Linked DNA regions of Homo sapiens. The protein of the gene in region 1 interacts with the protein of each later gene in a pairwise test. Each region holds a gene or a part of one and is shown on either strand. Other genes may lie near its edges. The genes, in order: STMN2 and RGS6.

Region 1 (15,678 bases):
AACCCATAACTTTCCAGAGTATTAAATATTTTACTCTGGAGGTCAACAACAAGTGAGAACAAACTTAAAATATTTTTGTTATGGTTTTATAGTATAATATGTGGCTCCTACTCTAAGTACAATTCCTAAAGAAGCTATATTTCCACATGACCAGCAAAATGATGGCTGAAATGCATTAATTAACCTTTACACTCATATAAAAGTGTTTTGTGAGAACAAATGTACACAAATGTTATCTTTAATCATGACTAATAAAAATGGATATTATAAACACAAGCTTTACTACTGCAAATGTCTCCTTGACAAATGACAGGGCCTGATTCCTTTATTAAAAGATAATTAAAAATGTTTCACAAGGGATTCAAAACCTTCCTACAGTTCTCTCCTGCCTGCCTGCCTGCTTTGATGGTAATATGAAGAGAATCTTGAAATAACATCTAATAGTTATATTAAATGTGAATGTGTAAATTTATTTTATTCAACAAAATGTTAAAACTAAATATCTCTGGCCTATGGAAGTAGTTAAGGAGGCATTTTGAAATGTGCTAACCATGATGGGACTGAGGAGATTAAGTCAATGTTATTTCTGGAACTGGTCATCAGAGTGTGTTCCCACCAGAAATCGATGCTGTGCTGAGCCTGCAGAACGCCATGTGTCTCATACGTTACAACCCACACGGCCTCATAGCTCTCTTTCTCCCAAAGCCTAAATCATGGCAATTATTTGAATAAGCCCCAGGTAAGCTATTAAAACTAGGCATCAATTTGGAAGTATTTTCTCTTCAAGGTGAGTCTGTGATCAGAAAGGAGAAGACCATCTCTGGTCTGTTTAAATAAAATGGTGATATCACAGGTGTGACCTCTGCAATGGGAGCTCACCTCTAACATGGAACAGATATGAGACTAGCAGCAATCGGTGAAAGATGGATTCCGAAGCCAGATGGCCTGGGCCCAAATTCTGGATCTGACTAACTGTGTGACCTTGAGTAAGATACTTCAACTTTCTGTGCCTCAGTTTCCATATCTGTAATAGAACCTACTTAGGATTATTAAGTGATTAACACAGTTAATATGTGGAAAGTTCTTAGAACAATGCCTTGCATGTTATATGTGCTATACAAGGGTTAAATCAATCAATAAAAGTTACTTCCCATAGAGAATCTGGAATTTATGAATACACCAGAAAAACAGTTGAAAGAAAGCACCATTGCGGGAAAATGTTTGAGTAAAGAAATAGGAAGACTTATTGGCTCGAGGCCCTCAAGTTTAGATTTTTGTCATCTCCAAATGAGGTTATACAGAGAGCCCTGCCCGACTGCCAGAATTAAACATTTAAAACATGAATTACTTTTGTAATGCTGTCTTAAGTGTGTCTTCCTTTCCTTCAATGTACAAGAAATTGCAAAAATGGAAAGTTTCCCAGCTTCTGAGAGACCCTGAAATGAACTGTTAACAACAACTGAATGGCTAACTTTGAGACTTAGTCCAACTTTGTGTTGAGTAACAGTATATTCTGCAAACCCTGAAGCTAGTTTTATTTGGGATCATGTTTTTAGTGCCCTATTTGGGAAATGTTATATTTTTTAATTTGAGATATTTCGTGTATTGTATCATTTTTGCAGCATAATATTTCCAGAAAGGTGGTAATGGCTGCATGGTCAGCCAGTCACTGCATGGGAGACCTGACTATGTCTTTGATGCTATTCCTTGAAGATCCTCTTTCTGATCTGTAGGTTGACTTCCTTAGAAAGTTAGAATTGAATAATGAAGATCCTTTATTGGCTTAGATAAGCAGAAGAAAACACTCTTTTCAAATATACAGTCATACTCAATAAATTCTTAAGAATTTTCTCACATGGTATTCAGGAAGAAATACTCTTAGAATAATTTGGTAAATAATAAATATAAGATATATTGAGACAGCAATCTTTTGTTTTAATTTCTTCAGTATTGCTATTCATAAATGATAGTAAGCTTGCATTATTGATTTATCATCCTTGTCAACTGTGCCACAAGCCGCATTCACATTCATTTCTTCTTAGGCAGGCTGTCTGTCTCTCTCTCTCGCACACACGCACACATGCTCACACAGAGAGCCAAATTCTTATTTTCTACCTTTCTCTCGAAGGTCTTCTGCCGAGTCCTGCAATATGAATATAATTTTAAAAATCCAATTAAGAGAGAGTGATGGGGCAGAACACATAATTCCCAGAGTAATAAAATCCCCAGGTATATGAGTTCGGAAGTAAAATATTTTGTAAAGATTACCATAGATTTAAAAATGTTAAGACATAATACCAGAGCTTACCAGGAGGGATACCTGTATATTACAAGTTAATATCCCTAAAACTGATGTGTTTAGTGGTCAGAATCAGCATCATCTGGGAGCTTGTTCGGAAGACAGAATGTCTGCCTCAAGCCAGATGTATTGAATCAGAATTTGCATTTTAATGAAAATCAAAGGTAATTCATATGCACATCAAAGTTTGAGGAACACAGTAATATGACACTATTAAATATTTTATAGCTGGATTAGAATTACATAAAATGTAATCAAAAAATAATTCTATCAATGCATATTTAAAAAATCCACTTTTGATGATACCCAAAATTAGTTTATACTTATATATTTCTTCTTACTTCGTTAAAATTAACATCGATTTTCTAATAAACAGAAAACCACTACAAGGAGATGCTCAATAATTGTTGAAATCTGATAAAACTAGATTGAAATCACATTGGATTAGATTTAAAAAGGTATCTTTAAATGGAAAAGAAAGACAGACTTAGAAGATGGGAAAAATAACAGCAGTCAGTTTTTGGTACACCTCCTCAGTATCACATACCTGCCTGTTTTACTCGCTAAGCTGCATGTTCTCTGCAGGTGGAGACTCTGATATTCAGATGTGCTCTGAACAGGGGGCACATTTCAATCGATGAAGAAGTAAACAATGATTTTCTTTAATTTATTCCTTTATTTTTAAGCATTAAAATATTCGGCTGCTAAATAACTTTGCTATTACTACTGACATTTTTCTACTATTTATCCACTACAAAATCTCAGAAGTAACATAAATGGTATTATAATAACAATGTAATAAAACTGAGAAGTAAAACCATCAGGGAATAATTAACCAGGGCGTGTATCTACTTTCAGATTATGACCACTCATTTCATCCTGTCTCCTTGAAAATTGTACAAGCTCTGTTCATCCACTAGGGTAAAGCATGGCATCAGCTTATTGAATAAACACTTGAATGTTCCTGGTAAAAGAAAAGATTTTATTAAACAGTTAATATTTGGAACTAGGTTTACATCAATCATCTGCTTTTTTAGAGAACATGATTGCCCTCTAGTGTGGTGAAAAGTTAATGCAGACACCGAGGTTTTCCAATGGACAGAACCAGTCTAGGTTCTGAAAACATCTGGGTCACTGGCTAGTTCAGTATTTTCTTTTTTAATGAAAAAATTCTAGCATTTTTTCATATAAGGTCACAGATCTTGTGACAACAGGATAATATGTGTTTTTCTTCCCACGACCAAAAAAGAAACTGGTGTGAGCTGGGGTTCGCTATCAGCAGCTCCCAGTGGCCACGCCCAGGCCTAGGTTTGTGCTCTGAGCTTCCTCCTGCTCGGAGGCCAGCTTTTTTCAGCCTCCTGTGAGCAATGAGCTACCAAGGTAGCCTGAGCATGTGATCAGTCACACTCAGTTGAAGTAAAAAATAATGGTGATTGATAAATCCGGAATTTTCCTAAAGATGGCCTGAATTTATCAATGACAAAGTCTTCCATTCAATATGTATCGATTCATCCTCCACTTCATTGTTAGTTGTACAGATTTAACTTTAAAATTCTGTTTGATAGCTACTGCTAGGTATTCACAGAACTAAGTAACTATTTGATCTTAAATTATAGGGAAGAAAACTATTTTATTATATGAATCAGCCTTATGGCACTCTGAAAGGACATTTCCTGAATCTGAGTAAATTGTAGCCTCTTGTAGCATTTTTTAATCACTGAGAATGAGCTATTTGATGGAAGTCATATTGTGCCAAATGATTAAATGCTTATTCCACCATCTATCCATTAGTAATTTGAAAAATAAAAACCCAAAGTAATTAAAACTGCTTTCAATGCAACAAATAAAAGTTTGCTAAAAATATTAATGAGGTAATAGCTGTAACAATAAAAACACTCATTTCTCTTTTAGAATAGAATAATTTACTACAAATCTGTAAGTCACATTATTGTAAAAAAAAACCATTGTGAATTTTGACTAAAGTTGTAGATTTTAATAGCACAAATGTCCAATCTTAATTATCATTTTAAAATATACTTTCTCTCAGAGAATTTTAACGTGCATAGACAAACACCACAAGGTCTATTAATTTATCCTATCATTCTAGCTACCTGCGACGTGTTACACTGGGACAGAGAGTGTTTATTGCAGGCTCAGCTTACTCACCTGGTATAAACTAAATACATGAGATTAATTGATAAACTACTGCCATTTCTTTCAGTTTTATCCTGAAATTCTGACCAAATCCTCAGCTTTTCATTTCTAGTTACTTATATATCCATTCAGAAGGTGCCCACTTCATTAGAAAAGATAATGGGGAATATTATATGCACCTCTTACAATCATGCTGAATACATAATTGTTTAATGAATCAGGAAAAAAGCACTCGCCCTGATAATTAATTATCTTTGAAATTGGAATTAATTTCAAAATCTATTATTTTAATACTGCAGAAGTAGTGTTTTTTTCATGATTTGCAAATGCAGTTAAATTATGGCCAGAAAGGATGCTTGCGTTTGTCATATTTGGGGTGGGATTTTTATTTGGATGGCGGCTACCATTTCACGATCCATGTATCTGTGTAGGATTGAGGCTGTATCAAGAATCAGCAGTTGGAAGAACAGTTTCAGGGGAAAAAACTTAAAATTTTGTGCATAAACTATATTTATATATTTATAGATATAACCTTATGTTGAAGATCATCTCAATTATATATGTGTATTCTCACCCATTGCAGCCACAAACAATTCTTTGCAGAGAATTTTCCAGCAATCGTTGGCACACAAACCCTGCTCTTAGCAAGCACTTGCACATGTATCTTAGCCACATGAACATACATAATCCTGGCAGGAAGCAAAAATATATTTGCTTTATAACTTAAAATGAACAACTGGAGACAAATTTACCTTTTTGTGGGGGAAAGGGATGAGGGCAATTAGGAGGAAGCAAAGCGAACGCAACAAGGGTTAATCCTTAACCAAGAGCAATCCACGTCCCTTTTGAACAAATGAGAACAAACAAGGCTACTGAATCATTAAATAATAACAACGATTTGAAATGATAATAATACTGATGATGACGATGAGTTTGCAGCCACTAGCCTGCAGCGGAAACCTTTCTGAGGGGTGCAGAAAGCGAGGCGAGATCGCCCCCACCACCCATTCTCAGAACCTTTCTGGACGTGCGAGTGAACTGCGAATTGTGGAAAGCGGGGGTAGCTCAGGACACTGCGCAGAAACCGGTCTCCCCGGCTGCACCGCGGGGGCGAGCGCCCAACTCCGGGGAGGGGAGCGCAGGGCGCGGCGCGGGGCTCTGCAGGGCTGGCTGCGCTCCACACACCCAGTCGCCACGTGCGCCCCCACCCGGCCAGCGGTAGGCGGCTCTGGGCCTCAGCTGGGAGGGGTGGGGCCGAGCCGCGCCCCGCTGGAGGAGCGAGGGTCTCCCTTAGAGAAGCCCCTCGCGGGGTCTCCATTCTGGAAAATCATAGAGAACAGAGGGTGGGCGGGGGGCTTGGGCTGGGGGAAAAAAAGCCCCGAGCTCCGCGGACCGTGGGTGGGCGAGAAGAGACAGCCCTCCCTGAATCCCTGGGAAGGGGGTCACCTCTGCGGTCTCGCGCCCGGGCTGGGTGGGGCCGCGCCTTTGTGTGGCCGGGCGGGGCTCGAGCCAGCTTTTCTGCAGAGCCACCCGCTTGGCTGGGAGGGGCTCGGTGCTGGGGCTGAGAGCCACGCCGGGGGTCTGCGCACATCAAGGGGTGCTCGGGCCGTTGTGGACTGCGGGGCTGAAAAAAGAGGTTCCAGGACTGCATACAGCTCAACTGCCCCTCCCATATTCCTCTTCCCCGCCAGTCTCGGAGCCTGAGGTCTCCCCGGCTCCGCGGGGAGGGTAGGGCAGGGCGGAGCCGCGCAGATGGAGTCCTTTCGGCAGCTTTCCCTGTCTCCGCATCCTGCAACCAAGTCCCGGGGGACACGTGCTTCCAGCTGCCACAGGACCCCAGGCCCCACCCTGCCTTTTCACCCCGGGGCCACTGAGCGCCAGAACCGTGGGCACTCAAGGCACAAGACCAATTGCGGATGAAGGCCCTGAATCCAGAATCTTTTCCGGTCATCCTGTGTCTCCACTGTCTTGTCTCTCTGAGCTTATGAAATTGCCGATATTTGGCACTGTCTGACCCACAAAACGGAAATTTCGCGTGGCTTAACTTAAGACTTTGACCTCTTTTGCTTTATATACGATTTCATGTCATCTCTATTATTATACATACACATGTCTAGGTTCTAGAAGCTTTTCCCGCAAACGATCAAAGGTCTTCAAAGAACCCTTTATCTGTGTCTATGTCTAAACACTCTATGTAATTTGCTTCCGAAAAGAAAAATGTTAACCCACTTTTCCCATCTCTCTTAAAAGCAGAACAATGAGGCCAGCGTGGGGAGGGCGGGGTCAGTGGTCAGGTCTCTCTTGGAAGCCGCGGCGGGGAGTCGGGAGCGGGGAGCGCGGGGCGTGGCGCCGCTGTCCCCGCAGGGTTGGGCTCCTGGGTGTCACGCTGCGCTCCCCACCCGACCCCCTTTCGAATGAAGATGCAGCACCGGGCGGGGGGGCGGGGCTGCGCGGTTCCGCACTGGGTGGGGCTGTCCGCATTGTGCGCCCAGCGCTGCAGGTGCCTCCCCCCGGGACCGCTGGTCCGCACACAAAGAAACCCCACCCCAGCGCCTTCGAAGCCGCTGTCCCTCCACCCCTCCCTGCCGCGCGCTTCCCCGCCCCTGCAGCTGCCCACCCGCGCCCTCCACGCCCTCCGCGACTTCCTCTCTCCTTCCCCTCCCTTGCCCTAAAACAAAGGAGCGGAGGTCCTACCCCCACCCTGTCCCCCGCCGTCTTACCTCCCTGCACCGCACCCCAGGACTAGCGGTTTCTTCGACGAGACAATACCGTAAAATGTGCCCAGTTCTCTCCATCCCCTCCCCCCGTCTCCACCCATCTTTCAAACAGCGGGATGGGACCGCTTTGACTTTGCAATTTTCTTTTTCCTTTCTCCCACCTTCCCTTTACCCCTTTCCTATTTTCTTCTTAAACTAGAGAAGAAATAAAAAAAAAAAAGGTCGTTATAAAGCACTTTCCAAAATGTCCCTTAAGCCCATTTAAGGCAAACAGTTAAGGTAGCTTCCTCCCCTCACGATTGAGTCCTAATTTTAAATATGGAAACAGAATAAATTCTCTACCCATAGGAGGGCAACTTACCCGCTTCTACCTTTTAAAAGAAATTCTTCGCTTTAGATTTCCATAGACCTCTTCTCTGCCCTCCCACCTCCCCCAGAACTGCCCTGTCCTTCCTGGTCCTGTGTTACCATTAACATCTTTTTCTTTATAAAATATCTCTGAATGCTTCTAGAGCTCAAGAGAGGAGGTGAGAGGTGGGCTCCAGGTAGAGCCGACGGAGAACGAGGCGCAGTGCCTTACCCATTGCTGTTTTAGCCATTGTAGGGATGTGCAGACGCTGAGCAGTGGCGAAGGCAAAGGGTCCGGCTACAGCAGCGGAGAGAGCGAGAGAGAAGACTGAATAAGGCACTGAGTCTGCAGAGTGGGACCGTGCTAGAGAAAGAGCAAGAGGCAGGAGCCCATGAATAATTATCACTCAGAAGCTCAAGCAGATTGGCTCCCAAGGTCCCCTGACATGACTCCCGCAGAGTCAGAATCTCCAAGCATTAAATATTGATCGGCCAATGGTGCTGGAGTACAAAGTACCAGAATGCAGTTTGAAATGGAAATCAGTCCTTCCCTGTCGGCTCCCCCCATTTTGGGGGCCTGATAGTACAGTCCAAGTAGAGTGGAGCTTTAAGCCCTGAAGCTTCCTAGGAGCTAAGAACTGGGCTGTGCCTACCTGGGAGCCAGGAGGCTTGACTTTGCTCATACATGTGCCATTGCACAATTCAATGGAAAAGGATTCAGAAGCTTGAGAAGTCCTCACTATATGCAGGCTGTTGGAAAATTCTGTTTAAATACTGTGTTTTCACTTTTTCATATTTTCTTTCACCTTTGGCTCTGTCCTTGGTTCTAGTCTTTCAGGGCTACCCTATGTCTGGCTATGGTGGCAGCTCAGAGCAGACTTGCATTATTGTCCTTTATCTTTTAGCACAGCTGGACTTAGGCGTCTCTAAACTCTTGAAGGTCTCTCAGGAGAGGGAAGCATGGTGTTTTCTTCCCTTGGCACAGAGGAAGGGGCTACCTGGTTGCTTGGGAATAGGGATGGTAATAATGGTCCACCTGGGGACATGGGGGAAGAGGAAGAAAGTTTAACCTCTGGTGCCTGTGTCCTGTCCATTTGTTAACACGGCAGAAAACAGGTTGGCTGGCTGGTTTGGGCATTAAGGAAACCACAGGTGAATGCCATGTTGCCCTGAAGGTGTAGGATTAAGTGGGTCAAAATTTTAGTAACCTTTCCAGGGCTCTAAGGAGAATGCTTTACATGGAAAACTTAGAAGAGATGAAAGGTGTGGTCTGGGTCATTATTTTTCTGAGATCCAGAGAGACTACGTTTATGTAGGCCCAGGAAGGCTGTGTTCAAGTTTCGGATTGAGCAATGTCGTATGTGAGGATCTTTGAGACTAGTTGCAAAAAATGACTTTCATTACAAACAAGGCATTTATTAGTTCCTCCTTCTCACTTAATGGATGCCAGTCATTCATTTGTTCTCTTTCACTTGACTTAAATATGTATTGAGCATTTACCATGTGCACAGCTCTGAAAATGGTGAGAAAAAGTTTAGGAGTTGCTGCATGAAGTTTTTAATTACTGCTAATTTAACTCTTCTGTAACTTTATTGAGCCAGTCTAATTCCATGCAGAAACTGGTTTTAATATTAGAAAAATAGGCAAAGAATTGCTAATTCCGACGTTTGAAAGCCAAAAGAAGAGCACATTGTTGCAATCATGAACAGGTATGAAACCCTGGCAAGTTTTTAATTTCAGAAAAATGAATGTATTTTTTTCTTCTTATTAAAATAGGTTTTTAGCAGCTTTCTGTCCAATCACATTTCAACTTTTTTTTCTATCCTCAGGAACAATACACAGTTTCAAATACATAAAACCAATTGAAAATAGCAGGGCACTCTCCTTGGTGCTGAAATGAATTTCTTCACCTCCTATTAACTTGTAAGACATTTTAACCTCATGGACATTTTGCTGACTGATAGGATGCTACTGGAACTGGAACAGTTTTGACCTGCTGAATCATGGGGAAAATAAAAGATGAAGTGGAGATCAATAAAATTATTTCTTGAACAGGAAGATTAGAAATTATATTTCCTATCTTTGAACAGGTCTGTGACTATGACACAGCAAGAGAGCAATATGGAAGTTGGCAGGGTCTGGAAATAAATAACCATTTTCTCTCTATATATAGGCATTTCCCACTTTAAATGTAACAGTTAATCACCTCTCACTGGAGTAGTTATCACTCATGAGGTGAAGGATCTTCAGCATGTCTGTGTGACTAATATTTTCAAAGTATTTCTCTTCTCCCCACCACACCCTTTCCCCTCAGGCTGTGTGTCATCTCTACACATTCTTCAGCTTCCTTGGAGAACAAGGGCCCTAAGTCATGGCATTAGTTTCTTTAACAACTGCAGTTGGCTGCTGAATGAAATCGATTGCACTTTTGATGACTATGAGGAAAACAAAACACTCATTCTACTGCCCTAAGGGTCACATATGTGACTCTTTTCTATTTCCGATTTTCTAGGTGTTAGCCACCTAACTTCAGTTATGAATGATTTTTAAATAATGTCAAACAGGGAAGAGAGTAGGTCAATATGATTTACCATAGAATAAAAAGATAGTAGGCAAAATTGTCAATCAGCTAAGAAAACACAAATAAATTCAAAGGGCTGTGCCATTATCAAATTGTTTTTTGTTTTCTTTTATCATTACAATATGGTATCATGCATATTCACATGGGAAAGTAAGGGTGAAATATGAACAGAAAAATTATTTCATATTCAATATGTTATTCACTTATTCATTTGTTCAGCTAATTTATTCAACAAATATTTATTTGATGATGTTTCAGGCTTTTGTGATGCCAGCCAAGCTTCTCCTTAATGTCTGAAAAATAGAAAGTGAAGGAAAATATAACACCCATCTCTTTAAGAAAATATTAATTTGGGGGAGTGAATATGATCTTGTGTATTGTGGATCACACTTTGTTGCAAAAATTTGAAAAAATAACCCAAACTGGCACTAATAATAAAAGTGCATTTGCTGTTTCGTCTAACCATATAGATAGAGTTGGCCCTAGAGGTCTGGAGGTGAGATCAGCTTTTCCTGAAGGAAATGGTTTTGATGGGAATGGGTGGACACTCAAAGAATAGGTACTACATTTGCACAGTATAAACTAAGGACAACCAGTATCTGTCGTGTGGGGATTTGGGTAGACTGAAGGGTTATCATGTATGAACTGTCTAAGCCATCATGGATATATAGTAATTTTAAGTACTATGACTATATTTAGTGTTTCCAATACATTTAAACCTTTGAAAGGTAGAGAATGAATAGTGTATATCTTTATACCCTTCCTAGTGGTTGGTTTCATGATTCACGTGGTAGACAGTTAAAAACAATTTGTGAAATAATAAATAATACAGTGTTGAAAATGATTCAAAATGGATGAATCCAGTGAGACCATATTGACACTTCTAACCTCCTTTGCTTAGCTTGTGTTGGGAGCAGGTATTAGGCTGTTTACCAGTGTTTATTTATTTATATCCTGCCCTATTCCCAAAGAACCTAAATGAGTAGAGCTCACAATAGTAGATGGCCCTTGTTAATTTTTGTTATCTTTAACAGCCAGCAGTAAGCTGGAGCTGTGGAAATCACAGACTTGCTAACAGAAATTTTAATTATTGTGGGTTATAGCCTAGTGTGTATTATCTCTGTGAGGAGGCCTGAGGTGTTGATTTCTTTCCAAACCAGAGAGAAGCAGTTGCTTTGGAGGATTAGCTGATGCCATCTAACACAGTCATATGATTTTCTGCTATTCATAATCAAGTGCCTGGGAAAGAATCCTAAAGTAATTATTAAAAGTTAGTGAGATAAGAGAAACATTGTTAAGGTCAAATTAATTGTTTTGATCTGACCTCAGGTGATTACAAAAGAAATGTGAGAGATAAAATCCATTGAATTTTTTTAGATGTTTAGAAATTTAGGATATAAAGTAGTTATAGCTGAAGATATTTAGAGATGCATCTAAAATAATCACACATGAAAAAATAGTTGACTTTTTAACATTTTGATTATTTTGCCATGTTTAAATTCTTATAGATTAATGAAAAATAAAAAGGATCATGTGTCCTTTAATAGAACTGTCTAATATGGTTTATTCAAAAGGAAAGTCATTCCAAGGAGGGAGAGTTGGTGTTCTTTATTAGCAGTGAGCTCTGTATTGCTCAGGAATTTGCCAGTGTGTTAGAGTTATTTCTGAAGTGTGGAACAAACACACTTCATTGTTTTCTTCTTAAATTAGTTATTTAAAAATAAACAATGATTAGTTAATTATTATTATTTTTTCTCTACCTAGGGTTTTCTTTATGTCCAAATGGGACTTGTATGTATTAATAATTAGTATAATTCACCCTGAAGCAAAATGACTTATTGAAATTAGTAAATCCTATTGATAGTTTTATAATTGAACTTTTCTGGAAATAAACTTGTTCTAATCATAAGAAAGGCTTGATATAAATTTAATGAGCTGAATCTTTACATTAAATTGATAATGTTGAAAACTACTCGCTATCTTGGCAGCAATTACTGTAACTAACTTTTTCCTTCTCTCCATGAGTTGATTTACAGCTTGAGTCCAGGGAGAACATTAGTTGGACACCATTGAAGCTGGGAAGTTGGTTCCCCTTGAGATTTCACTCAGCATCTTAGTTTACAAACCAAACAGTGGAGACAACACTGAAGTGCCTGGAAGAGAAATCTGGGAGAAGTGTGACTCACTCTGTTTATCCCACAAGCCTCAATTTATTTTATTTTTTAAACAGAACCCCTACTGTGAGCATTGCATTATACATACAATAACAGTTGCCTAAGAACCTTATTTTTCTAAATCAAGCTGAAAAGAGGAGGAGGAGGATTTAGGGAAGAGAAAAGCAAAAGCATTTTAGTATACTGCCTTCCTGGGAGATTTTCTCATTAGTCATTTATTAACTAATTTTCTGACCCTCTGAACTTCCCCCACCCACATCCTGCTGTGTTATCAAATGGAATTGAATTAACGGATGTAGGTAGTATTTTTAAAAATCAATTTCATCAAATATTTACTTTGACAGTAACATTAGACTTGAACTCGGCCGGGTGCGGTGGCTCACGCCTGTAATCCCAGCACTTTGGGAGGCCGAGGCGGGTGGATCACGAGGTCAGGAGATCGAGACCATCCTGGCTAACATGGTGAAACCCCGTCTCTACTAAAAAATAGAAAAAATTAGCCGGGCATAGTGGCAGGCTCCTGTAGTCCCAGCTACTCCAGAAGCTGAGGCAGGAGAATGGCTTGAACCCGGGAGGCGGAGCTTGCAGTGAGCCGAGATCATGCCACTGCACTCCAGCCTGGGCGACAGAGCGAGACTCCGTTTCCAAAAAAAAAAAAAAAAAAAAAAAAAAAGAAAAAAAACACATTAAACTTGAACTCAACTAGAGACAACAAAACCCCATTCCACTCTTTTTTTTCCTCTCGTCACATATTTAATGGATTTTTCTGTTTTTGGTTTGATCACTTCCTGAACTACACCTATCTTTTTAGTTCAGTTCAGCAAAAACAGAGCAATGTGCAGTTAGGCGGCAAATGCTGCCTTTTGAGGCAGAAAAGAAATTGCCCAGAGATTTGCAGATGTGTTATTTGGGTTTATTTAGAATGCGCAGGAAACGTCCTCTTTTGGAAAGAGGATTTCAATAGCTTGAATATTTACATCAAAATATAAAAATATTGTACTTATATTTTTGTCATAAACTATTTCAAATGGACACAAGAAAGCAAATAATGAACTTGTATTAGTCAAGTTAAGAAATTACCAAAACTTTATTGCTTCTGTTTCTTTTTCCTTTTTCATCTTTGCTGAAAACTTTAAAAGGAAGTCACGACAATCATTTAAATTCACTCTTTGTAGTTAAGTATGTATCTCTATAAAACATGAACCTTTCTTACATAAATACAATTCTGTTAAAATACTTAACAATTATAATCACATTTTCATGATTGTCTCAAGAATACTGTTGCTTTGTTTAAAACAGGACCCAAATATGGTCCGCATATTCTATTCACTTTTATGTTTCTCAAATCTCTTTTAATCTGGTACAATCCTCCCTTCATTTTTAAAATTCCCACCATTGGCTTTTTGTAGAAACTGGGTCAATTGTCCTATGAACTTTCTTACATTTTGGATGTGACTCTTTGCTTCCAATGTGGTCACTTAACTTGTTCCTGTCCTCTGTAAATGAAAGTCAATTTTGAAGCTTGATTAAATTCAGGACCATCTCACCAAAGAATAACTCAGTTTAATTAAAAGCATGGCTGATATCTATTCACATGTGCTGGAGATCAGTCATGAAACCAGACAAGGGGGGATTTATAAAAACAAAACCTACAGCAGCCTGAGGAACAGTGAAATATTGTTTTTTGTCTATGGGCAAGCTGATTAATTAAAACCTATCAGGGAGAGCATTTTCCCCAAAGCAGACTGGCAGTTATCACAGAAGGCAACTTTATTTATGAGGCTTTGGAGAAATCTTGTTACTAAAAGTGACAGAAAGTGATGTTTTATTTCTAGGTGTGGCTGCTGTTGAACTCTGCTGGACTTCTGCTGAGCCCTTCACCTTAGTTAAGCTAGGAGTGCACCATTTCTCTACTACAGTAAAGTTGTTCCTCTTTTAGCCAAAGTCTGCTGAGTGAGCTGTGATAGCTTCAGTCTTTTTGATGCAGAATTGTAATGAACTGAATATTTATGTCCCCACTCAAATTCATATGCTGAAATCCTAACCTCCAAGGTGATGGTACTAGGAGGTGGCACCTTTGGGAGATGATAAAGTCGTGAGCGGGGGTGACTTATGAGTGGGATTAGTGACCTTATACAAAAGACCCCAGAGAGCTGCCTTGGCTCCTATCACAAGTGAGGATACAGCTAGAAGGTGCCATGTATGAGCCAGAAGACGAGCCCTCGCCAGCAATCAAATCTGCCAGCACCTTGATCTTGGAGTTCTTAGCCTTCGGAACTGTGAGAAATAAATTTCTGTTGTCTAAAAGCTAAAGAGTTTGTGGTATTTTTGTCATAGCAGCCTATATGGATTCAGATATAGCTGAGTGTCAGCCTAGCATAATGGCACTATAGTAATTTTTAAAGTAATTGCATCTCATTCAGAAGAAAATGAGGACCATTATAAATGTCAAAAGAAACGTTTGAAATCCCATCTTGTATTTAGTTTTGAAATGGCCTATAACCAACTAGGAGAACAAGTCCCATGGATCAGTTTGGGCAACCTTATTTATGCTTTTTTTAAAAAAATCAAATTAATGGTTCCACTTTTCCTGAAGTGTTTATCCAGGTATTGGTTACTGTATTGACTCAATAGATGGTTGACCTGTAAATAGTCAGGAAAAATTTTATTAGCTAGATTAGTCTAGCCAATACATTTATGCTGGTTGGTTGGACTTCTCAAACTTGAGCTGCTTTATTTGTTTTTTGGTCCTAGTTATAAAATGAGGATCACACATTTCAGTCTAAAGAAAAAACACTACTGATATTTGGTGTCTTGCATATTTTCTGGTAAGTTACCATGTCAGGCTCCCCACAAAATATGAGAAATAGTAGAATTTTTTTTTTAGTCCTTACAAAGATGATCTGGACAAAGAATAGGTCACATTTTGATGTCATTAGCATGAGAGGCCTATCTAATTAAATAGGAAAAATAATCTTTTGGGTGAATATAGAAGGGACATGAAAATAATCAGTTGGTATCAGTTGCCACCTAAATGTATTTGGTCTAATTGCAAAGAACAAACATTCTACATAAATTTAAACAAGTCGTGAAGTTTCTGAATTAATTCATGACAAAACAGTTCAATCATAAGTTGCATTATTAGTCACGTGTTCCTTGTTATCCTTACCTCCCATAGGTGACTTTGAGGCTCTGGATATATAAGTAACAGTAGCAACTGTGAGGAGGGACCTACAGTTAAGTTGAGGCATGTGGAATAGATGTGTTTGAGTTAATATTTTTTATATGTGCCTGAGCCATATAAAAAATTGTGCAATTGGCAGTGTCTGCAGCGGTGGCAACTGTCTGTTTCAATGATCTACTTCTGTAAGTTTCTTACTTTTGGAGGCCTTTTAGTGAGCTCAG
Region 2 (14,938 bases), on another chromosome or scaffold:
CGATCTATCACAAAGTACCTCCTTCAGTCTCTTGGACCCCTGGCAGAATTAGGGACAACCTCAGGCAGGAAGCTTGACATGTCACCAGCTCGACTGGGCCAGGTCATGATTACCTTTGAGCAGTGCAGGTCAGTGGAGGTGGCAGCTGCTTTGACAATGCTGCCCTGGACAGGATTTTGCACTGGCCAAATGTAAAACTCAGAAAAGGCTAACCTGGATTTGACTGTGGGTTTTATGCAGGCAGAGTCATCCCAAGAAATGTCCAAATGGGTAAGCGGGGTCAAAATGGGACAGCGGGGTTGTGAAGTGAGTTATCATGCATGGAATGCAGAGCTGGGGCCACTCCTGATGGCCATGAGTCACAGGGTCACATGCTACTAGCTAATGTCCCTGTGCCTAAAGTCACACAAGGAATCTTTTCACCACAATGAGGAAGGTGGGATGTGGCTGTTCTTGGCACAGAACTCCCTGGGGCTTGTCTGCATCCCAGAGTGCCCTCACTAGGGCTTGCTCTAACTTCCAACCGACTCTAGTGACTACTGGTGACAATAGCCAGCCCTACAAGAGGGCATCTGGAAGAACTGTCTTAAGCTCAGATATTGGTTTCTCTTGGATATTTAATTTCTTACCGAAAAATTTCTATTTCCTTGTCCTTACATCTGGCATTCCACCCTTACCTATATCTCACATCTCACTCAGAGAAATCCACTGCCATCTCAAGTTCACCATGTGTCACCACACAAAACTGGGACATATTTAAAAATTGTATAAAGGGAACACATTCATGTATTATATGTGCAATTAAATTTCTTAAAAAATATTGAGCTTATCGAGTTTCAATGTACTGAAGAAACTGACCCCTTTCTTTACTTTCTGCCTTTACTAGCAACATCATTATGTACCTCAATCTCCTAAACTAGGGAACCTATAACTCACTTATTTCTCTATTTTCCTCATACTTTCTGATGACTTTTTAGAACCAAAGAATTTTAGACTGGAGGTAACCTTGGCAACCATCAAGTACAGGCCCCTCATTTACAGATGGGGAAACTAAAGGCCCAGAGAAATGAAGTGATGGACCCAAGGGCTAGTTAGTGATGGAGATGGAATTAGAATCGAGGACCAGTGCAGAGTTTCCTCTATGACATTCACCGATCCATTTATTCATTCAGTCACTCATTCAAAAATGTACTGAGTGTCTCCTATGGGCCAAGTACCGTTTTAGGTGCTGGAAAAATCACCATCGTAGCAGCTACTGCTTCCATTGAGCCCACTGAATATCAGGAACTATTTGACTAAGTCACAGCCCTTACTTAATCTTCCACAGTCCACTTAATCCTCATAATAACCCTACTAGGTGGGTTCTGTTATTACCCCCATCTTATAGATGAACCAATTTTTTCCCAAGTAGGGAAAAAACTTGGGAAAGTGTGTTCATTGTTGGGGACCCACAATAGCTTCCCCAAACTGCTGAATCCATTCTAAATGTCTCTACTTGACTGCCAAGGCCTTTTTATAAACCTGCCCCTCCCAAGCTATTCAGCCTTCTCAGTCATTCATCACATAAAACCTTTGAATACTCAAGCCAGATCCTCACCATGCCTTTCTTCCCTGCATCATGCTGCCTCTCCCAGCCTGGAATGCTTGCGGGGAAAGGCTGTGACTTATTCAAATCTCTGACATAGAATTTGACAGAGTAGGGACCAGTAAACGTTTGTCAATTGAATGAAAGTTTCTGGTACTTCATCAGTCCAAATCATACTATATTGAATTCTTAGCTTCAGTTTCACATGCTTCCTGGTGAGACGGTCACCTCAGTCATAATAATATCAACCAACATCCCAGTGGCAATAATACCGACCCCACCCCAGTAGTGATACCAACCACCACTCCGTATTAACTCAGAGAACCTTACATGCATTTCATTTAATCCTAACAAAACACTAGGAGACAAGTGCCATTACTACTCTAATTTTAATATGAGGTCTCTGAGGCACAGAGAGGTTAAGTAATTTGCCAAGATCACCCAGCTAGTGGAACGGGTTGATCCTGGGGGCTCATTGTGCTGGATTCTCTCTTCATAAATACATCCTGATTTTCTAACTAAACTGCTTTGGAAACCCTGGGGAGTACTGGTTTTTCTTTGTTTTAGAGACAGGGTCTTCCTCTATCACCCAGGCTGGAGGGCAGTGGCACAATCATAGCTCACTGCAGCTTTGAACTCCTGGGCTCAAGTGATCCTCCCATCTCAGCCTCCCGAGTCACTGGGATTACAGGTATGCACCACCATGCCTGGTCCCTGGTGAACACTTGTGCATCCTGAACCTTGATTTCTCCCTCTGATTTGCCATAAATTGAGGCACAGGAATTTAAAATAATTTTTGTTTAATGAGAGCCTGAAACAAACTATTATTTCTCTCCCTGTTCATGATGCACAATTAAAATTATAAAATGAAGAACACCTGTAGAACAGGGAGATGATGCCCTTTAGTATGCAGCATAAGATGCCCTAAGCTTTACGGAAGTAAATATTTTAATCTTACTTGGGCCCAGGTATCTGGTCTTACCATCCTCCCACCCTCTCCACTGCCTGGAAAAATACTGGTTTTCACATTCACAAGGGCACACGTTGCTGCATGGAACTGAGCTATAATTATTCAAATTCTGAGTTGGGCTTTCATGAGCAGTCTTTTCAGCCCCAGAAGCACTAGTTTTATGAGCGGTCAAATGCAGCTCTCACTTGCAGTCGGAAGTCTTCCTGGATCCACTTATCACATTGGTTAGGGTGCAGCACAGTGTCAGAGGGCCCACAGTGGTGCCTGTGGATAGCCAAGCAGACAGCCCCAGAGCCTGCCCTTCTGCATGACTGACGTCCTCCACACTTGACCATGGAACAACTCCAGCCTTAGTAGGTACAACTCGCTTGTATTCCATCCTCAGCTTGGCTCCCTGTTGTTGGTTTCCTCTTGCTCAAACGTGTGACTCCAAGGTTGTATCTTATCCCATGGGTCTCCCAGACAGGCTCCCCTGATCACCACCCAGCTGCACATCTCCCTCCCACTCACCACAGCTGCATCTGCCTTCTTGTCTTAAACAATTCTGCAAAGAAGCTGCAGGTCTCATTGAGTGTCCCAGTCCCAAGGAGAGCCACAGATGAGACTGCCACAGCAGCTGAGTCAGCAGCAAGGATGCATGCAAAGGGGCAGTGCTGCAGCTACAACCTTCAGGCATGTCACACATGGGACCGTGAAAGAAGTATGGGTTTTGGAGCCACTCAGATCTGAGTTCAAGTTCTGCTCCCTCTAGTGAGTGTCTGTTGGTCACCTTCAATAAAGAACCAGAACTGTCAGTGGATATTTACTGAGCACTAATTCTGCCTCAGACATAGGCTATGCCCTGGAGATATGAGAATGCATAAGCTGGACCAGCCTCTGCCCTCAAGAGGCTTATAATCAAGGGAGCATTCAGACAATGTGGTAGTGTGAGGGTGTGGCCCCTCTGGGCCTCAGGTTCTTTCTCTTAAGCATAGCGATAATAAAACTTCTTCAGAGAATTGGCATATAGGAATATTAAATAATCTCCACTGAGAATATCTGGCAGAAGTCTTGTAGGTCCCTGTCTAGAGAGACAGAACTCTCAACTTCACCCACTCTATTTTCCTAGTCCAGAGTGACTTCTGTATACTCCTCCCTGGTCTCTGTCTCTTTTCTAAATTGCAACTGTCAAGAACACCAAAAGGTTCTTAGTAAGTTTTGACAAGTCTATGAGAACAGAAAGGGCCAGGAGGAGGTAGCCCCTTGATCCAGCCCTCCCTGAAGCCCTATCCCTGGAAAGAACAATTAAAAGTCACCATCTGATAGTGTTGCTGTGGGATCCTGGTTCTCCATGGCCCCAAGATGAACATACTGACCACCCTTGATAAGATTTTTCTTCCCTCTCCTGCTTCCCCTCCAAGGACTACATCTTTCAGTAAGCTGGGCCTTCCTCTGTTATGTGGAACAGGAGATTTGTTATATAGCAACAATATGAGAAAGGACTAAGCAGAAAGGACCCTCCTCCCCATGTACCACCATGGCCCACACCAAGCATTTGTCTTCTGCACCCCCAGAAGTGACACACAGTGTTGAAGTTGAGAGTTCCCAGTGGCTTCAGTTCTCACCATAGTCAGTGTTTTCAGGTTCCCAGCAGTTCGAAGGCCAGAAGTACGGAGCCTGCAAAGGAGCATGGGTGTTAGTGCTCAGGGGCGCGCCATGCCTGCGCTTCCCTCCCACACCCAGGGAGGAGCCTCCCTGATGGCAGGCTCTCCCCCATCTCCTTCTTGCTGATGCTACCCCACAATTCTCTCCTCTTCTCTAATTCAGCTAAGGTGAGTCAACATTTTAACCTAGGCATTGAGAAGCAAAATGTAAGTAAGCAAAACAAATGCAAAAATGTTAAGTTTTGTTCACAGGGCAATATATTCTTATCCTGAGACAATAGAGGTCTAAGTACAAAAGTCAGGCTGGCATAACTTACTGGGCACCTAAGCCCATGTTCCTTTCCTCCCTTTAACCTAGTCTGAAGAACTCTTCTCCCACACCCTTTGGTTAGACCTTGATTCAAGCCCATATCCTCTGCCCTCATTCCCTCTACGGAAGGATCTGGGAGAAGGAGTGTGAAATGGGTGGGGAGGGTGATTAGGTCGCAAATAGAAACTTCACTCCGAGAAGGCAACATGAGACAGTAGAAAGATCAAGGTCTGTGCTATCAGGCTCACTTAGGTTCAGATGAAGGCTGCTCCAGGATTTACTAAATGACACTTTAATTCTTTGAGCAATTCAGTTTTCTCCTCTGTAAAATGGGTAATATTTACCCCCTAAAGTGTGCTCTTCAGAATAAATGAGGAAATCTGTACAAAGTGTCTACCATGGTCTGAATGTCTGCATCCTCCTCAAATTCACATGTTGAAATCCTAATCCCCAAGGTGATGGTATTGGGAGGTGGGGCCTTTGAAGCCCTCACAGGTGAGATTAGTGCCTTTATAAAAGAGGTCTGATATAAGCCCCAGGTCCTGTCTGCCATGTGGGGATATAGCTAGAAGGTGCCATCTATGAGCCAGAGAGCAGGCCCTCACCAGACACCGAATCTGCTGGCACCTTGGTCTTGGACTTGCCAGCCTCCACAACCATGAGAAGTAAATTTTTTGTTTGTTTGTTTATAAGATACCCAGTTTAGGTATTTTGTTGTAGCAGCCCAAGGGACTAAGGCAGTGCCCAGGGCATGGTAGGCTCTCAATGACAGCCTTTTACTATTCTCTAAGTGGGTCACCCAGTGGCCCAGAGAAAAGTTCTCTTGGCTTTCCCAGTGCTGATGAGGAGTGAGGGCTACTCCCTCAGATATCCCTAGGTTTTCTTTGTAGTTCTAACCTAAGATCAGATGATGTTGTGAAGAAAAGGTTCTTCAGGAGGAGGAGCCAGCAGGCTTACCTGGAAACGATAAAAGGTGCCATCATCCTTCATGGTGAGAACATGGTCTGAGATTGGAAAGATGTAGCCCTGGGCAGCGATAAGGCTCCCCAAGTGTATTGCTTCAACTGTAAGAACAGTGCATAGAGAGAGAAGGAATTAGAAAGCAGGTTATTTGGCTGAAAATTAAGCTGGGAGACCAGAAGTCAACTGTCATCACCCCCAGATGTCTGTGTTGATGATACAATTGCCCTTGCTCAGTGTGGGGGTGAGGAGGGGAGATGCCAATGGCTGGAAAGGGCAACTATGTGTCTGGGACTTGTCTGAATCCCACCTCTGAGAGTCTGACATGGCTTAACCCCTCCTCACCCTGACCTTCAGAAGAAAGTCTGGCTTCAGGGTCAAGGGCATAAGTTCTGGCATAGAAGAACCTGTATTTAACTAAGTGAGATATTTCACATGAAGTGATTGTCTGGTACAGGTCAAATACTCCGTAAGTGCTAGCAGCTCTGATTCATACCAGTTTCATCATCCCCAGCAGTAAGAATGCAGCCTCGCTGCCCATAGAGACGTAGGACTCCCAGTGCGTTCCCCAATATGACAGTCCCATCAGGAATGAGAAGGGTGTCACCCTTCTCTTATGGACAGAGAGGAAAACCTCACTTCCTTTGAAAATTAGAGGAAGGACACTGAAGTGGGCAGTGACAGAGAGAGGCTAACCTGATAGAAATACTTATATTTTTGCCACAGTCAATCTGTTCCTTCGTTCCTTTGGCACCAGCCATAAATAGATGCACATAGAAAGTTGAGAATATAGGTCGGGCATGGTGGCTCACGCCTGTAATCCAGAGGCAGGCGGATTGCTTGAGCTCAGGAGTTTGAGACAAGCCTGAGCAACACAGCGAGACCCTGTCTCAATTAAAAAAAAAAAAGTTAAGAATTTAGATTTATCCTGAGCAGAGCTAAGAAAAAATAACAAACCTCAATGCTTCTACCACACACAATCTTTCACAAATCCAAAAGTACTGTTACAGGTTAAAACTAATTTTTGGACATGGAAATTGTTAATGTGCTCAGGGAGCCTCTAGCAATTATTAATTTCACGAGCTCTGACTTTTTAAAGTAGTTTGTTTTGGCTTTACTTGCAAACTTTTCAAGAAGTTGAATACAATGCAATGTTTTGCGTATCAAGAACCACCTATTCTCCTTTGAAAGAAACATACATGTAACTGGTGGAATTGGAATGAATAGAGTTTTATTTTACTTGCTTAGTGATGACCAATTTGCTATTTTTTTTTTTTTTTTTTTTTTTTTAGAGACAGGTCTGACTCTTGTCACCCAGGCTGGAGTGCAGTGGCATGATCACAGCTCATTGCAGACTTGAACTCCTGGGCTCAAGTGATACTTCTGCCCCAGCCTCCCAAGTAGCTGGAACCACAGGCACATGCCACCACGTCTGTCTAATTTTTTTTTTATTTTTTTTGGTAGAGGTAGGGTTTTGCCATCTTGCTCAGGCTGGTCTTGAACTCCTGGGCTCAAGCAGTCCTCCCAGCTGAGCCTCCCAAAGAGCTGCGATTACAGGCATGAGCTACCATGTCTGGCCGGTTTGCTTTTTAAAGTCCATATGCTTCAAGAACCATGAGTCCAGCTAGAACAGAAGTTTCATCATCAGCAGTTGCTCCTTCCCCAGAGAAGAAAGAACAAAATCCTGTAGGAAGGTGACTTTCATGCCACCAGTCTTGGAGCTAAGACTCTAACTTCATTCTCTGAGCAAAAATGTTTTTGCTTAGACGTTGGCCAATGGGGCCAGGTGCAGTGTCTCACACCTGTAATCCAAGCACTGTGGGAGGCCAAAGCAGAAGAATTGTTTGAGGTCAGGAGTTCAAGACCAGCCTGGATAACACAGTGAGATCCCCATCTCTACAAAAAATAAAACAAAAAATTAGCTGGATGTGGTGCTAGGAGCCTATAGTCCCAGCTACTCGGGAGACTGAGGTGGAAGATGGCTTGGGCCAGGGAGGTCAAGGCTGCAGTGAGCTATGCTCGTGCCACTGCACTCTAGCCTGGGTGACAGAGTGAGACCTTGCCTCAAAAACCAAAAAATAACCACAGGAAATCGACTGATGGGAAAAAGAAGGGAGAGAGGGGCAGATGCTGGATCTGACTGTTTCCCAAGGCCTCGGTTTGCCTCATCTCCCCCCTTAGACTATTCCCAGCTGACAAATGGTTCTTAGCTTCTCCTCAGCCACTTCTCAGAAGCCCAAACAGGCCCCTATACCATGATGTCTTCCCAAGGGCATCAGAGTATAACAGATTTTCATAGAAATAACTCTCATCATTCAGGACCCTTCACAGAAGCTTCTCACGCCAGGGCTGGAGGATTCCTGAAGCTCATTCTCACATACTGCTCGCCAATTTAGGGTTCTCATAATAGTAATAATAAAATATATGTCAGAAATACAACGATTATTTTAGGAGGCAAAGAAACCAGTGCTCTTGGAAGAGAAAAGGTGGCCATGAGGAAACACGTTCCTTAGTTTAGCATTATAATCACAAGAAATACTGACTTTAGATAAATGTAACTAAACAGGTAGATGCTGATTCAGTCCAGGCTTTCCAAGCGGACACTCAGAAGTACAGGCTGCATCAGGGACAACACATAGTGAGTTGCTTTGGGTTCTATCCTTTACAAAGGGTTAGCATTTATAGTTTTTTCCCTGTGAATCAAGAACTTGACTAGAATTAAGAATTTTCACTAGTTGTGAGAGTAGCCACTAATCAAGGGGGTGAAAAGACTCGGGCCACTTCTATGAATGATCTGCTTTTCTGGCACTCAGAGTTCTAACAACTGTATATAATTGAACTGCATAGAAACTGTATTGTTTTGCAGTCAACAGATTAGAAATGTTGGGTTAAAATACAGGAGTGCCAAGCTGACACACCGATTCCAGCAGGGACTCACAGCTGAAGGTCACGGATGCAGAATGGGCACTTCAAAAAAATCTTCAAAAAGCATTGTGGTTCAGGGCCATTTAATTTGGGGCAGGTAAGTCTAATCACGCCAATGTCCATTAAGAACATCAGAGTGTATTAGTGGATCTTTATAAATGTGACCTTCAGGCATCAAGAATACTCAGTTAATCAAGGCAAAGGAGTATGTAATAAATTCGGAAAAGTATTAACTGACAGCACATGGGAATAAGCTTTACTTATCTTGAATTTTTATTTTTCTGGAACACCCCCCCCATTTCCTAATTACACTGTGAAAATAAATTTTACTGCCTATTTTCTGGTGGGAGAACAGACTGGGAAATTGTTTTATTGGCCAGGGTTCTGTTGTTGTTTTCCTGGTAAGGTCTTCCTAATTGAAATGCGCAATTAAAGTTGAAAAAAAATCATTCCTTCACTTCTTGCAGAAGCAGAAAACAGAGGGAGTCTTAGCAAATAATTAAACATCTTAATTGTGGATCAGGCAATCTAATTTTAAGAGCTGGCTCTAGAAGGCTGTTCAGTGACAGTGCTACAACTTATCTTTAATTGCTGCAGCTAATGAGAATTCAACTCATTTCACACATTATTGTATTGGGCTCTTTGGCATTCTAAAAAGTTGCTCATTTCCTCAAAGCATGATTTAAATTTAAAGACAAATATTCAGTGGAGAAAATAAATTAATTTTATTTGTAAATAGAGTGATTCCACGTCTTGGAATTCACATTTACAAGACCAGTTCTCAGGAGGGCAGGGGAATCTAGTTTGGAACTTGGTTATGGGATGTTTACTGATACCAGGGGAGATAAGGGTGGGGTCAAAGGTCAAGTACCTGGGTCCTCAATGGAAAGGTTCTTCATAAGCCACTGCACAATGTCAGTACCTGCAACGATAAAGCAATTTCAGCTGAAGACCTCCTGGGTGTTTAACACTGTGGCAGAAGAAACATGTTTACCTAAGAGAATCCTAATTCCAAACAGTCCACACTGTAGAGCAGGATAATATGGGCACTTTTTTTTGTCCTAACCAACCCTTTCCATTCTTCAGTACACTTCCATAGTTACAATTCCATTCTTGTCCAAAAAACACTCACTTCTGATGATGCAGGATGAGCTTATATTCATGTTTCTAGGAAGTGTCTATAGAGGACTTCCCTGAGACGTGCTAGGTGAAGCTTTATCATGCCTGGCCCCCAGACCATTTCTTGAAGAAGGAGGCCTCATCAGCTCCCTACCATCAATTACAAGGGCTGACCAACACAGGTGACCTCATAGGTTCTTGCAAAACTCTCATCTCTTCCGGCACAGGCCTATCCTGAATGAATGTGTCCCTGCATTTGTGGCAGAAACGTCTATGTATTCACCAAGACCTCTTTCCTCTCCTCACTGTGCCATAGCTAGATTACATTTCCAGCCTCCCCTGCACTTAGATATGGACTGAGTTCTGCCAATAGAATATGGGTAGAAATGGCATATGCCACTTCCAGACCTGGACCATAAAAACTCCTACATGGCTCTCCTTAGCTCTGCCCCTTTCAATCCCATCTACTGGCTGGATGTGGGGGACTCCAAAGACCTGGGGGAATGCAGAGCCACAATAGGCAGGGAGCCACGGTTCCAACCATGGACATTACGCCCATGTGGGGCTCTGACTTGATTGAGGACTGAAAGGACTGAACTTTGTTGTGTTAAGCCCCTGAAATTTGGGACTTAGCTGTTTTGGTATCTAGTATTACCTTAACGAATATAAATCTTAAGAGTCTGAAGGAACTTTTTTTTTTTTTTTTTTTTTTTTTGAGACGGAGTCTCGCTCTGTCGCCCAGGCTGGAGTGCAGTGGCGGGATCTCGGCTCACTGCAAGCTCTGCCTCCCGGGTTCACGCCATTCTCCTGCCTCAGCCTCCCAAGTAGCTGGGACTACAGGCGCCTGCCACTACGCCCGGCTAATTTTTTTGTATTTTTAGTAGAGACGGGGTTTCACCGTTTTAGCCGGGATGGTCTCGATCTCCTGACCTCGTGATCCGCCCGCCTCGGCCTCCCAAAGTGCTGGGATTACAGGCATGAGCCACCGCGCCCGGCCCTGAAGGAACTTTTAAAGCTTGTCTACTCCAACCCCAGCCAATACATGTCCCATTCACAACACCCTGGACAAGAGGTGCTGTAACCTGTGTTTAGAATCCCTAGTACCTGGAAACTCACAAACTCCCCCCTACCCAGCCTGACCCAGTTAAATCAGCCTTGATTTATCTGAACAGAAACTTGCCCCTCTCTGACTTCCTCCCTTTGGCCTCAGTTTTGCCATTTGATGATAGAAAAACAAACCCCAACCTAACCACTCTGTGCGACAGCCCTTCAGCTATTCAGACAGTCCTGCGGCATACCAGCGACGTCCTCCCTCCAAGTGCAACAGGCCTGGGTCCCTCAGCTGCTTCCTTGCAGGGTGTGGCCTGGAGTTCCTCACCATATGTTCCCAATCCTCTGAATAAGTTCCCTTCTGTCTGCCTCTCTTTGAAAATGTGACCCGCAAACAATGTTCTGAGAGCAGCACTGTGTACATGGCAGTAGAGGAGTTCAGTTTTCTGGAAGGTTCTGAATTTCTGGTCAATCTACCTTTGCCACCCAAAGATCTCACTTTAAACCAGTGCAGACCATTGAAGGTGTGGCTTTGTCACCTCTAAATTGTTTGATGGAACACAGCCTGCAAGGGGAGACATTTTAGATATCAGAGTCCTACCGTGGGTCTGAGGCTTTGGTGAGAGGGAGGGGATGTGCCAAGAACTCTCCTGGGCTGGATTCCTGGCTGAAGGCCTGGGGATCCAGCAGAGGGGCTTCATGAGGATTGCCCTCTTCCCAGAAATCAGTTTTCTTAGATATGTGACTGGTGGCCAGAAGTGGGACTGGTACAGGACAGAAAGCCTAGACATTTTGTTTCTCTCTGGGTCCATGGCAGGTGAAGTAACCCTGCACAGTGGGACCCCCAGGGCCATCCTCATCCTCCTGTGTGCCCCAGTTCTGCCGACACAGCCTTGCAATTTTGCAGTTTCCCCGCGCCAACCTCAAAGGCAGCACTTCTAGGCTTCTCCTCACTCTTGCTACTCCTGGACAGCATCTGTGAGTCAAACTTTAGATCAAAAACACTCGTATTCATTCGTATTCTTGGAGAGAGAGAGAGAGAGAGAGAGAGAGAGAATGAATATGTGTGTGTGTACATGTGCCTGTGTGTCCCTTTCCTCCAAGTTATACAAGTTCAACATTTGTCCCAGGAAATGAAGAACAAAGCAGAAATCAAATAAGAACTGTAGTCCCAAGCTGGGGGTGGGAGAGATACTCTAATCTGTTTTTTCCTCAAAAGAAAAATAGTTCTGGCCAGGCGCAGTGGCTCATGCCTATAATCCCAACACTTTTGGAGACCGAGGAGGGTGGATCACGAGGTCAGGAGTTTGAGACCATCCTGGCCAACATGGTGAAACCCCGTCTCTATTAAAATACAAAACATTAGCCAGGCGTGGTGCCACATGCCTGAGTCCCAGCTACTCGGGAGGCTCAGGCAGGGGAATTGCTTGAACACGGGAGGTGGAGGTTGCAGTGAGCCGAGATCGCGCCACTACACTCCAGCCTGGCCACAGAGTGAGACGCTGTCTCAAAAAAGAAAAAAAAAATAGTTCTTTTCTGTGGGTTGCCTAGAAACTGTGAGGTTTCCTGCATTAGCTGAGTTCTCCCCCAGGCCTGCGGATTATCTTTCTGCTGAGCTTGCTGAACCATTATTTATCACCTGCCAAGATTGATTACTCACCCTGGGACAATGACAGCCCTTCCTTTCCCCTGTTAATTACTGTCATCATTAATATCCATGTCACTAATTAGTATTCATTCACATTGAAACTCCTTCCTTGCTATCATATCCGCTCCCCCCAACCACCCCAACCCCCGGCTCAGCACCGTTGTCTGGGTTTCCACCCGCTTTTGGCTTCCTGTGCTCAGCCTTTGGCCTAATTGTTCTCCCCAGTCCACCAGGCCGTGGTTTGCATTTACAGAGCTAAAGAATCACATTTAAGCACTTTTGTTTCTAAAGAAGGGAAAATCACAAAAACCCATTTCCTTTTTTCCCTAGCCCCATGGAGACCACAGAGTGGAGTTTCTTTTCCCTGGTTCAGCCACCATGACAGCTGCTGTCTCATCTGGAGACTGATGCAACAGTCCTCAGGTCCAGGCAAGGGCTGAGCGGCTGCCCCTGGCTGCCTGGGACACTGCACTCAATCTGCAGTGGCATCTACTCCGCCACCATCCCTTCCATGCCATGGCAATGCTTGGTAGACTCCATTTCAGCACAAGCAACAACACCTAGAGACAGGGGGACGTGCTCACTCTCACAGGCATTGGGTATTCCAGGCTTCCTTGGACCAACCCAGGAGTGGCCAAGCCTCCAGCCCGTGGCAGGGAGTAAATCATTGTGTGTGCAGCCCCAGGAACAAGTCAGAAAGGGAAATCTGTCATAATATCGCGTCCTTTAAAACATTTACAGTGATTACGCTGTAGCATCTGACAAGAGTAGTCCAAACATCCAAATCACCAGCAGGAGAAAGCATTTCCATTCTTTTTTCACTTTCCTTTCTTGCCTCTTTCCTTCCTTCCTGCTAACCCACGATCACCCTTTCCTTCCTGTTCTAAAGAGAATTTGAAGCGGATTCCTTTTCTGTTCTATCTAAGATTAATTGTTGCCTTGTTACCACGACTGGTTTCTGGATCTTATCTTAGTCAAGCTGCTTTGCCAAGGACTTAAAGTTAATAAAACAACATAACAAATGCTATGTTGAAACAACATAACAAATGCAGGATGGCCACCCTTTGTTCCCACAGATCCTAAAACACTGTCTGAAAGCATTCTTTTTGAGGCTGATTTATCAATATATATTCCAGGGATATCCAGGATATACACCAGACGGCACCCAAAACACCTCTCCATTGCATGCGTGTTTTATTAGTATATTTAAGGATATATTTATGATATGCAGTTATGGGTTATGTTTCTGTATGTGTTATATGTATTTCAATTATGTCTTTTATATCTAAAATCATGTTTATTAGATGACTGGGAACAAACCAAAGGCCTCTAATAGAGGACTGAATAAATAAATTATGGCTCATTCATGCAATAAATATTTATTAAACATCTACAGTGGAAAAGCATCTTGAGAACAGGGTTACTGTAAAATATTTATGTTCTATTAATTATATATGTATAGATATATATAAATATGGAGAGGAAAAATTCTGGATATATATTTAAATTGTTAACTTTAGGTTATTTTGGGGAGCGGGAGGCATCAAATAATGGGAAATTTCTATTCTTTACATTTCTGTATTATTTGAAGTTCATAGAACATTCATATAATACTTTTACACTAGAAAAATAAGTTTTTATTTTAAAAAGCACAGAGAGAAGAAAGAGCTGGCCTCTGAGGCCAAAGTGGAGATGGTATGGGTAACTTTGGACGGCCTCTGGCTATCCTCAAGCCCTGGCCATTTCCTGCTCTCTGGGGAAAGGGCCAGGAGACTCAAAGCTCTCTTTTTCCTGAGGGGTAAACAGTGGGAGGCTCAATCCCGAGGCTCAATAGTGTGCCTCCAGTTGGCCACTCTCTGGCCATCTGCCACTCCTGGAGCCTCAGAGCGACCCTTTATAGACTCTGACAGGGCTGTCCACCCAGAGTCCGGCCTAAGGGTGCCAACCTGCACCTCTCCTCTGTGTTTGTTAGCTTGTTTACTTGGTGGGAGTAAGACGCAGTGATCTTTTCCTGGTGCCTTTCCATGCTGAATTAACGCTGTTGAGTAAGCTGTAAGGGGTTTCTGTTTCTGGTTTCAGGCAGACACTCATAAAATTCAGGGCTTTGTCTTCAGGTGTTTTAAGCTCCTCCAAAATTGTAGAATTTGACAGGGATAGCTTCCTCCCATTAACGCATCAGAACCGCAGGAGATCCTAGTATAAAACACTCCCCTGATTCTTCCCAAAGCATTCTATCAATCTGAGCCCAGATCAGATTATGCAAAGTTGATAAAAAGACTGGTTCCCATCACCTGCAAAATTCCAGTAACTTGAAACCTGGTGGATTATACAGTACATCATAGTACTGATAAATGAAGCAATTCATAAACTAATTATCAATCTTGACTGTTGGGGAAAGACACTTTCTTTTGAGTAAAATGTTTCTGGAGCCGTATGAATGATCAGATGGTTCCTGCCATGAGTGAACTCACCATACTCTTCAGTCAAGGTTATGACTTGATCCATTGGATTTTCACATTCCTGCCAGGCCTCTGCTGCACCTCTGGGTGGGGAGGACAGCTTCAGGCCACCTTATCACATAGATGTCATGCACAGGCCAATGCTTATGAAGGCGGAGTGACATTTCCTGAGTGCCCATGGTGTACCAGGCCAGAGCTGGGCACTTGACCCTGTTATCGCATGTTATCTTGACAATAATTGTGTCCAATATGATAATTATTATATCCAT

Evidence for each region.
Region 2: the proteins of STMN2 (region 1) and RGS6 interact in a two-hybrid assay, tested with the Homo sapiens proteins (one study listed by BioGRID).

What each region holds. Positions count from the first base shown.
Region 1 is NC_000008.11:79,603,287-79,618,964, reverse strand, and holds the start of STMN2 (stathmin-2), read right to left. Parts: upstream 7,849-15,678; 5' UTR 7,770-7,848; coding exon 7,751-7,769; intron 1-7,750. UniProt on the Homo sapiens protein: Regulator of microtubule stability. When phosphorylated by MAPK8, stabilizes microtubules and consequently controls neurite length in cortical neurons.
Region 2 is NC_000014.9:72,448,905-72,463,842, reverse strand, and holds part of RGS6 (regulator of G-protein signaling 6), read right to left. Parts: intron 9,316-14,938; coding exon 9,265-9,315; intron 5,573-9,264; coding exon 5,466-5,572; intron 4,212-5,465; coding exon 4,160-4,211; intron 3,987-4,159; coding exon of another isoform or gene 3,851-3,986; intron 1-3,850. UniProt on the Homo sapiens protein: Regulates G protein-coupled receptor signaling cascades. Inhibits signal transduction by increasing the GTPase activity of G protein alpha subunits, thereby driving them into their inactive GDP-bound form. The RGS6/GNB5 dimer enhances GNAO1 GTPase activity.